Homo sapiens: one gene and its partners. The protein of the gene in region 3 interacts with the protein of the main gene of each other region in a pairwise test. Each region holds a gene or a part of one and is shown on either strand. Other genes may lie near its edges.

Evidence for each region.
Region 1: the proteins of IMP3 (region 3) and LPXN interact in a two-hybrid assay, tested with the Homo sapiens proteins (one large-scale study listed by BioGRID and IntAct).
Region 2: the proteins of IMP3 (region 3) and EVI5 interact in binary tests that used the Homo sapiens proteins (3 or more experiments, as listed by UniProt).

Annotation. Positions count from the first base shown.
Region 1 is NC_000011.10:58,551,821-58,555,474, reverse strand, and holds part of LPXN (leupaxin), read left to right. Parts: intron 1-534; coding exon 535-634; intron 635-3,654. UniProt on the Homo sapiens protein: Transcriptional coactivator for androgen receptor (AR) and serum response factor (SRF). Contributes to the regulation of cell adhesion, spreading and cell migration and acts as a negative regulator in integrin-mediated cell adhesion events.
Region 2 is NC_000001.11:92,778,561-92,782,214, forward strand, and holds part of EVI5 (ecotropic viral integration site 5 protein homolog), read right to left. Parts: intron 1-3,654. UniProt on the Homo sapiens protein: Functions as a regulator of cell cycle progression by stabilizing the FBXO5 protein and promoting cyclin-A accumulation during interphase. May play a role in cytokinesis.
Region 3 is NC_000015.10:75,638,593-75,641,738, forward strand, and holds IMP3 (U3 small nucleolar ribonucleoprotein protein IMP3), read right to left. Parts: upstream 1,633-3,146; 5' UTR 1,577-1,632; coding exon 1,022-1,576; 3' UTR 501-1,021; downstream 1-500. UniProt on the Homo sapiens protein: Component of the 60-80S U3 small nucleolar ribonucleoprotein (U3 snoRNP). Required for the early cleavages during pre-18S ribosomal RNA processing. Part of the small subunit (SSU) processome, first precursor of the small eukaryotic ribosomal subunit.

The DNA of each region.
Region 1 (3,654 bases), on a different chromosome or scaffold from region 3:
TTTATTTATTTATAATTTACTTACAATTATATGAATATGAAATCATCATCATATATATTATCTAAACTTTCTGCACCAGAGATTTGCAAACTTGTTCTGTAAAGAGGCAGATAGTAAGTTTGTTAGGCTTTTGTGGACTATAAAGTCTTTGTAGCAACTACCCAACTGTTCAGAAAAGCAGCTATGGACAGTAGATAAATGAATGGACATGGCCAGATTTGATCCAAGGACCTTAGTTTGTTGATGCCTGCTCTATATTCTAGTTTATTTTTATTTTTTGACAAAAACTGACAGGAGATATAATACTTTTTATAATTAGATGACCAGGGAGAAATAGAGAAAAAAGGCAGAGAGAACTTGTTTAGATTTTTGGTCTAGTACATATTAATATATTTTTAAAATACCCCCATCTCTGATTTTAGCTTCATATCCAGGGGATTCATTATTACAGTTGCATTTCCAGTACTTTATGTGTGGTTTAACATTATTTGAGTTTTGATTTGTTCATATGACTTTTTTGTTTTCCCTCTATAGTGAAGCCCAAGAGCCAAAGGAATCACCACCACCTTCTAAAACGTCAGCAGCTGCTCAGTTGGATGAGCTCATGGCTCACCTGACTGAGATGCAGGCCAAGGTGAGTGCAGGCCAAGGTGAGTGCAGGCCAAGGTGAGTGCAGTCCAGATGATAAACAGGGCCCATGGGGTCACCAGTTTATCTTTGTGGAACTCAGCTCTCCATTCTCCCACTTAGGAATTTTCCTAAGTTGTCATTGCTTTTTTCAGACTAAATTTAATTCCATGAATTAACCCATCTTTGTACTATGTGTTATTTGGACACAAAAATTAATATATAATACAGACTTTGATCTCAAGGAGCTGGAGTGTGCTTGGCAAAATGAGGCATAAGTTTCTTAACATTTATAGAATAAAAGCCAGGTGTTTTGCAAACATATGTGGAGCAAACATTACGGATATAGAGAGATTTTGGAGATTTAATCAGAGTTGAAACTTGGGATGGACTCTGAAGAACTGGCAGAGTTTGGACATAAAGAGATGGGAAGAAAGGTGGTTTTAGTTGCAATGAGTCCTGAGGGCAGAGGTATCTAAGGCTTGATGATGTGGAAGGATTTTTCATTTGTTTGTTTGTTTGTTTGTTTGTTTTTGAGATGGAGTCTTGCTCTGTTGCCCAGGCTAGAGTGTAGTAGCGCTATCTTGGCTTACTGCAACCTCCGCCTCCCAGGTTCAAGCGATCCTCCTGCCTCAGCCTTCCGAGTAGCTGGGATTACAGGTGCCCACCACTGTGCACGGCTCATTTTTGTTGTATTTTTAGTAGAGACGGAGTTTCACCATCTTGGCCAGGCTGGTCTCGAACTCCTGACTTCGTGATCCACCTGCCTCGGCCTCCCAAAGTGCTGGGATTACAGGCGTGAGCCACTGCGCCCGGCCAAAAGGACTGTTAAAGAGACCTGACTAAGCAGGACAGAGGAGACCAGTGAGCAAGCTGAGACACAGCAAGGGAGATCAAAGTATGGCTCTGACAGTAGGAAGGATGAGAAGTCCCAAGCCCATATTGAGATAAAATCTGCCTCTTTGTTCTAGCCTCTAGAACACCTCTAAAGTGGTGAGCTCACATAGTCGGGCATGGAATGGAAATCTCAGATAAATGGGCTTAAAGATTTATTAAAGGAAATATAATCCAGAATCCTTAAGGTGGAGAATCCAACCATTTTAAATCTGGTTGGAGGATTTGATATATACTCATGAGATGACTATGAAATAATTTCAAAGCAGTATATAAAAATGTATATGATTGGAGAGGGCAGGGACCTTATCTTTAGAGCTCACCTTGGGACTCCCAATGCTCAGCACAGGGCCTGATACATCGTGAGCAACACATATTTATTAGAGAGATGAGTAAATAAACATCACAAACAAGTTTTCCTTAATGACTGACATCCTTTGATGGGCCAGTGTCTACAATAAAGCTGGGTAGATTGGCTCATTATGCTGTATATCTGAAAATACTAGAAAAAATGTACATTAGATTTAATTGTGTTGCGTTTCTAGTTGATTTAGCTTGTGTATTGGTTGATTTAAATTTTTAATTTACAACACCATCTTTTTTTTTTTTTTTTTTTTTGAGACAGATTCTTACTCGGTTACCCAGCCTGGAGTGCAGTGGCATGATCTCGGCTCACTGCAACCTCCACCTCCTGGGTTCAAGCGATTCTAGTGCCTCAGCCTCCTGAGTAGCTGTGATTACAGGCGTGTGCCACCATGCCCAGCTAATTTTTGTATTTTTAGTAGAGACGAGGTTTTGCTATGTTGCCCAGACTGGTCTCAAACTTCTAAGCTCAGGCCACCTGTCTGCCTCGGCCTCTCAAAGTACTAGGATTACAGGCATGAACCACTGTGCCCGGCCCCATTTATCTTTTGAATAAGCTGCACTTTCACATTGTACACAAATCAAAAGTGCAAAAAGCTTGCACTGAACTGTTTCCTTCTCAGCTCTGCACCCTAGCCATCCAGTTCTGCCCCACCGGAGATAGGCAGAATTTCCTGTCTCTTCTATATCTGTTCAGAAGTATTCTGGAAGATAACAGTGAAGAGATAGAGATGTAGGTGTAGATGTAGTTATATTGTATTTTTACTTATTTTTCATAATTAATGTCAGTCACCCTTTCAGACCTTTCAGACACTAACCTTCTGAACACTAACCTCTTGAATATTAACTAACATATATTAGAGAAGGAAGGATGTCTGTCAGATGATCAAAATGTCTCGAAGCAAAATGAGCATTTTGATTGGTGACAGTGTGATGTTATAACAGGCAGTAAAAGTAGGATAAGTAGAGGTCTTAAGGCAGACAGTAACAGATCACATTCAGGAGATGAAGAGCCCAGCTGTCCTTTTACAACATAGTATTAATAAAAGATGAAATTGGGAAAGATAAAAAGGGAGGACAGTGGATGGGAGGCTTTGAATGTCTGTCTGATGAGTGAAGACTTGATGTGGTGGCAATGGAGAGCCATTGTAGTTTTCTGATGAGTGAAGTATTCAGTAGATAGATGGTAGCAGTCGCCCAGCTGGAAAGGAGTAGAGAGAGCCAGAATCAGGTTATGAGGTTATGAAGGGTCAGTTAGCCTTTTTTTTTTTTCTTTTAATTTGAGGATCCTTCTTTGAATGGTTTATAATAATTTTGGGCTTTTGCTTAAATAATTCCAATCCATCAACAAGTCTTATCTGACCACTTCTCACCACCTTCTCCTGTAATACTGATCTAAGTCATTATCTGAAAATCTCCCTGTATTCACTCTTGCTTGTCAACACTTAGTTCTCCACTCAGCTACCACAGGGATCCTCCAGATTCCTTCACTCCTGTGCTTGAAATCCTGCAATGGCTTCCATCACCTTGGAATAAAACCCAAGCGTTTACCATGAGGTTCCTATGTGATCTTTGCCTCTCTCTCCATCACCTTCTCCTGCCGTGTTCAATCTCACTCCCTCTGCTCTAGCCCCACTGACCTCTTTGACTTTTCTTCTAATGTGCCAAGTTGTTTTATTCCTCGGGGCCTTCCCTTCCCCTAGAATGCTTTTCCCATAAATGTCAATATTTCTAAGTCCCAAGTATCTACTCAAATATTACTTCCTTAGA
Region 2 (3,654 bases), on a different chromosome or scaffold from region 3:
CAACTCTCCAAGCAGAAAACTGGAAGATACTCTCTGGAAAATATGACTGGGACAAAAGGAAAGATAAATACAGTGGAGACAGCCTCAAACAATCCACCCAGATCAATTATTTCAATCTTGGCTACACACTGGAATTATCTTGGCAGCTTTAAAAAATACTGGTGCTAATCTTCGGAGATAGAAATCAGAATAGTGGTCACCTCTAGGCTGGGAGTGAGACAACAGAAGAAAGGGATATGAAGGAATTTTCTAGAATTTTTTGCCATGCTCTACATCTTATATCGGTTACATGGTAAAAATCAAACTATACACTTAAATTCTGTGCATTTTACTGTATGTAGCCACACCTAATTTTTTTAACTATCCCTACCTGGGACCTAGTCTCAGAGATTCTGACGTATTAGCAGCAGGGATTTTTTTTTTTAATTCTCCATGTGATTATAATGTGCAGCCGAAGCTGAGAATCACTGCTTTAGACTCTAGAATATAGGGTAAAACAACATGTCCTTAAGTCCTACTTACAAGTTCAGGACTTCCCATCAGCTTTCAGTAGCCCACTGTTAATCATGAACAGACAACCAAGGATTACCAGTCTTCCGAGGAGGGCCTCTACTAATAAGACTATACCAAATAGGAAAAAAAGTAACTTGGAAGAAACTATGCAAGGAAAAGAAGGTCTAGGCCAGGTGCAGTGCCTCACAGCTGTAGTCCTAGCACTTTGGGAGGCCAAGGTGGACGGATCACCTGAGGTAAGGAGTTCAAGACCAGCCTGGCCAACATGGTGAAAACCCGGCTCTACTAAAAATACAAAAATTAGCTGGGCATGATGGCAGATGCCTGTAATACCAGCTACTTGGAGGGCCGAGACGGGGAATCGCTTGTACCCGGAAGATGGTGGCTGCAGTGAGCCGAGATCACGCCACTGCACTCTAGCCTGGGTGGCTGAGACTCCGTCTCAAAAAAAAAAAAAGAAAGGCTTAAGAAAACGATTTTTAACATTCTCAGAGAGATAAGAACAGATATGGCACCCATGAAACAAGAAGAGATGGAGAAATAAGTGACTGAGTAGAGGAGGCTGAACCTACTGGCCTGCAAAAGGGAATACAATCAAGAAACAAGCTGAGGAGTCTCTCTGAGCCTATTCTGGCTCAGAAGAAGGCTGCCAGATAAAGTGATATAAAAATTTTTTTAATTTAAAAAATAAAAAGAAGCAAGCTGATTTGGCTAACTCACAGAATCACAGAAAGGCTCAGAATCTAGGAGCCTAGGAGTTCCCAGGTATAGGGTCAGTGGAGAGGCATGGGGCTAAAGAGAAAGTAAATGGTTTAAAGTTTATGTAAGGTACAGTTGGACTCTAGTCTAGGTTCCCTCCTCTGCCACCATTCCTATCTCATAAATTTATTTTCTAGAAACTCTGACCTGGTGATACGATTTGGCTCTGTGTCCCCACCCAAATCTCACCTTAAATTGTTAATAATCCCCACATGTCAAGGGCAGGACCAGGTGGAGATAAATGAATCAAAGGGGCAATTTCCCCCACCCTGTTATTGTGATAGTGAGTGAGTTCTCACGAGATCTGATGGTTTTACAGGGGGCTTCACCCTTTGCTGGGCATTCATTCGCTCTCCTGTTCCCCTGTGAAGAGGTGCTTTCCACCATGGTTGTAAGTTTCCTGATGCCTCCCCAGCCATATGGCACTGTAAGTCAATTACACCTCTTTTCTTTATAAATTACCCCGTCTTGGGTATTCTTCATAGCAGCATGAGAACAGACTAATACACCTGTGAGACTCCAGACTCAAGAAAAGTAAAGTAAGGCTCAAGGCTGAAAGCCAAGGGGTTAAACAGAAGTGTGTTTGATGAAAAGCAGCCCCTGCCCACAGCCCACTTTCTTTGCCCACCTCTCAAAGTTGGAGAGCTTATATTACCACATATCAAAGCTTATTATAAAGTTACATTAATACAGTGATATTAGTGCAAGGATGACAAATATACAAATAGAACAAAGTATCCAGAAACAGACCCACACTAATTTCATAAATTAGCTGACCATACTGTTATCTAATTTATGAAAAAAAGTGCCACACAGTGCAGATGGACAAGGATGGTATTTGCAATAAATGGTGCTGGATCAAACAGACGTCTATATAGAAAAAAGTGAATCTTGGCCCGGTGCAGTGGGTCATGCCTAAATCCCAGCACTTTGGGAGGTCAAAGCAGGTGGAGATCATGTTACTGCACTCCAGCCTGGGTGATACAGTGAGACCTTGTCTCAAAGAAAAAAAAAAGTAAATTTTTTTTTTTTTTTTTGAGACCGAGTCTCACTCTGTCGCCCAGGCTAGAGTGCAATGGCACAATCTCGGCTCACTGCAACCTCTGCCTCCTAGGTTCAAGCGATTCTCCTGCCTCAGCCTCCTGAGTAGCTGGGATTACAGGCACCCGCCACCACGCCCAGCTAATTTTTGTATTTTTAGTAGAGACAGGGTTTCGCCATGTTGGCTAGGCTGGTCTCAAACTCCTGACCTCATGATCCGCTCGCCTCGGCCTCCCAAAGTGCTGGGATTTCAGGCATGAGCCACCACGCCCGGCCTAAAAAGTGAATCTTGACCCCTGCGATTCATCAAGAATTTACTCTAAATTATATACCTTAAATGCAAAAAGTAGGGGATGGGTACAGTGGCTCACACCTGTAATCCCAGCACTTTGGGAAGCCGAAGAGGGCAGATTGCTTGAGCCCAAGAGTTTGAGACCAGCCTGGGTAATATGTTGAAACCCTGACTCTACAAAACATACAAAAATTAGCCAGGCATGGTGGCATATGCCTGTAGTCGTAGTCACAGCTACTCAGGAGGCTGAGGTGGGAGGAATGCTTGAGCACAGGAGGCGGAGGTTGCAGTGTTCTGAGACTGCACCACTGCACTTCAGACCCTGTCTGAAAAAAAAAAAAATTTTTTTTGCAAAAAGTAAAATAAAATTGCTATAAGACAACACAGAAAAATATGTTCATATTCTCAGGTTAGGCATTGATTTCTTAAATAGGACACAAAAAGCAGTAACCATAAAGGACAAGATTGATAAAGTATACTTCATTAAAATTAAGAATCTCAGGCTGGGTGCAGTGGTTCATGCCTGTAATCACAACACTTTGGGAGGCTGAGGCTGGTGTAGGTGTATGACTTGAGCCCAGGAGTTCGAGACCAGCCTATGCAACATGGCAAAACCCCATTTCCACTAAAGATACAAAAATTAGCTGGGCATGGTGGTGCTCATCTGTAGTTCCAGCTACTTGGGGGTTAAGGCAGGAGGAATACCTGAGTCTTGGGAGATCAAGATTGCAGTGAGCCGTGATCGTGCCACTGCACTCCAACCTGGGCAACAGAGTGAGATTCTGTCTCAAAAAAAAAAAAAAAAAAAAAAAAGGCCAGGCACGGTGGCTCACACCTGTAATCCCAGCACTTTAGGAGGCCGAGGTGGATGGATCATGAGGTCAAGAAATCAAGACCACCCTGGCCAACATGGTGAAGCCCTGTCTCTACTAAAAATACAAAAATTAGCCGGGCATGGTGGCACACACCTATAGTCCCAGCTACTCAGTAGGCTGAGGCAGGAGAATTGCTTGAACCCGGGAGGCGAGGGTGCAGTGAGCCGAGATCGC
Region 3 (3,146 bases):
CAAAACACTCATTCCAAGGAAGGGACTGGTAAAGTGACAAATTTGCCCAATCCTGTACAACATCCTGCATCCTCCACATGTGGCCCTGTTGCACATCTAATCCACAGGCAGGTCACTCGCTGCTGACTCTATTCTTCTCTGGGCTCCTGGGACGTATAAATATGACTCTATGTAAGAAAACCAGAGGCTGGGCGCAGTTTGCTCATGCCTGTAATCCCAGCACTTTGGGAGGCCGAGGCGGGCGGATCACGAGTTCAGGAGTTCCAGACCAGCCTGGCCAACATGGTGAAACCCTGACTCTACTAAAACCACAAAAATTAGCCGGGCGCGGTGGCGGGCGCCTATACTCCTAGCTACTCGGGAGGCTGAGGCAGGAAAATTGCTTGAACCCGGGAGGCGGAGGTTGCAGTGAGCCGAGATCGCGCCACTGCACTCCAGCCTGGGTGACAGAGCAAGACTCCGTCTCTAGAGAAAAAAAGAAAACCAGACAGATTAAAAAGTTGCACTTACAAAGCAGTTGGGGCATTTATTGACATTTAAACAAGGGAGGAGATCCTGAACACTAGTCTCGCTCAGTTTATAAAAACTTGAGGCCAAACTCTCCATCATCTGTACACAGCTTAACCACGGCCAGGAGCAAGAATTCGAGTTAAACGAATTGAACCAGTCCAACCACAAGACGATAAAGGGAAACAGGGCGTGGGGATTTCCAGTTTTTCCTTTTACATTACAAAGTTTCCAACACAAGAAGCCAACAATACCCCAGTGCTGCACCAAGTTACTTCCCACTGTTTCCCAAGGCACAGTCAATTAATAATCAGTAGTCCAAGTTCTAAGAACATTCCCTGGAAAACAAGGACGCACCTCCCGTGGCTCTATGCATGGCCTGCCACTGATGAATCAAATTCTTAAGAACCTACGACCGTCTGATACCCTTGAGGAGAGCACCCTCATAGAATCTCCAGCATCAGGCCTCAGTTTTCCCATCTGTAAAAGACAGCCATGCAAAGTGGGAGATCCGCTAGGCTTCCAGATCGAAGTCATCGCGCTCCTCATTGTACTCTAGCACGTGCCGCTTGATCTTGGACGAGTCCACCCAAGTGACAAAGTCCTCCATGCTGCGCGTGACAAGGAAGGCGGGGTCGGTAACCACGTCAGGGCCCACGCGTACGTGCCCTTGCTCCACAAAGGCCACGGCAGCCTGAAGGTGCTGCGCCATGCGCAGCTTGAGGAGCACGGTGGGGAGGCGGCGGCGGCAGAAGGACGAGGCCGTGACGAAGTCGCAGAGCTCCAGCGAACCGCGCGTGGGCACCAAGCCGAGAGCATACAGCTTGTCCAGCAGCGCGGCCGAAGCGCGCACGCGGAACTGGTCGCGTTCGGGCAGGTCGCGCAGGCGCCGCGCCAGCTCACGCACGGCACGGCTCAGCTGGTTGTAGCGCGTGTAGTCCTCCCGCCGCTGCAGCCGGTAACGCCGCAGCACGCGCAGCTCGTGCAGGTTGTGGTCGGTGACCTCCCAGTTCAGGAAGTCCACCTGCTTCAGCAGCTTCTGCTCGTGGAACTTAAGCTTCCGCACCATGATGGCGGCAGCCGCAGCCGCAGGACCCGAAGCTGAGAGCGCGTTCTGGCATCCGCGCGATTTCCGCCGCGGCGCCCCAAGACCTGGACGGCCTGGGACCCTGGGCCAATGAAAGAAAGACTTAAAGTCACGCCCTCACTTCCCATTGGCCAGGGTGGGACCACGCCTCTGCACTGGGATCTCGCGTTTCTTCTTTTCTTCGCGTTTGCGAGGGAGGGGGTAGAAGCACCGGAGGTGGGTGGTTGGGAGCGGGTCCCTAGGCGGTTCCGCGCGGTTTTTAGTAGCCAAGACTGTATCCCTTTCTGCGGCAATCATTTCCTCCTAGACTTCTGTCCTTTGGGGACTTTCAGAGTCTCCCCCGCAAGAGCTGAAGAGGCCATTTCTGGGGAAGAGGGGTGACTGCGGCTTGTTGATTGGGTTTACTGTGCTAACTTGCACTGGGCTCCTGCCATGCCTTGGGGGAGCTTGCCGGAGCCGGCTCTCCTGGGGCTGACCTGGTAGTCCCCGCCGCCCGCCAGCGTCAGGTCCTTCACCTGGCATGCAGAGCGATCTCTCATTGTCAAGTTGGGATAGGTGGCACCGAACCCATGAAATACTGATTGGCTGCTTCCTAGGCCCACAGAAAAGGGATCTATAAGGGAGTCGCCTGGAAATCTGTATTATTAACTAAAGTGTCAGATGATTCATAAAACCCAGCAAGTTTGAGAAACTTGGACTATAACTACAAGTCCAAACCCTTTAGTCTGTGCTCAAATGAATTATCCTGACATGAATTTCTGGCCACCAAGCATTGAGTTAACAAATTTAATGCTGTTTCCGCTAGTTGCATCTGTAAGTTACATCTGAGTATAGCGCTGCAGACCTAACCCCTTTTTGCCCGGGCATTTGACGCCACCTAGCTTCTCACTGATCATTTTTGTTTTGTATGCTTTTCATTGTCTTTTACAATACAATATTTGAGGGTTGGGCGCGGTGGCACATGCCTGTAATCCCAGCACTTTGGGAGGCTGAGGTGGGAGGATCATTTGAGGCCAGGAGTTCAAGACCAACCTAGGCAAAAAAAAAAAGAAAAAAGAAGCGAGATCCCACCTCTGTAAAAAATCTTAAAGAATTAGCCAAGCATGGTGGTGCGCACCTGTAGTCCTGACTACCTGGGAGGCTGAGGGGGAAGGATCATTTGAGCCCAGGACTTGTAGGCTGCATTGAGCTACAATGGTGCCACCGCACCCCAGCTTGCACAACAGAGCCAGACCCTGTCTCAAAAAGATATATATATATATATAAAATATTCGATATCTGGAAAATAATATAATATGTAAATTATAAAGTATAATAAATACTCATAAACTTAGCCAGTTTAAGAAAACATCACCAGGCTAGGCATGGTGGCTCATGCCTGTAATCCCAACACTGGGAGGCCAAGGTGGGAGGATCACTGGAAGCCAGGAGTTCAAGACCAGCCTGGGCAACATAGTAAGACTCAGTCCCTATGGACAAAAAAAAAAAAAAAAAATTAGCCAGGCATGGTGGCAGCACCTATAGTCCCAGCTACTGGTGAGGGTTTCGGGGT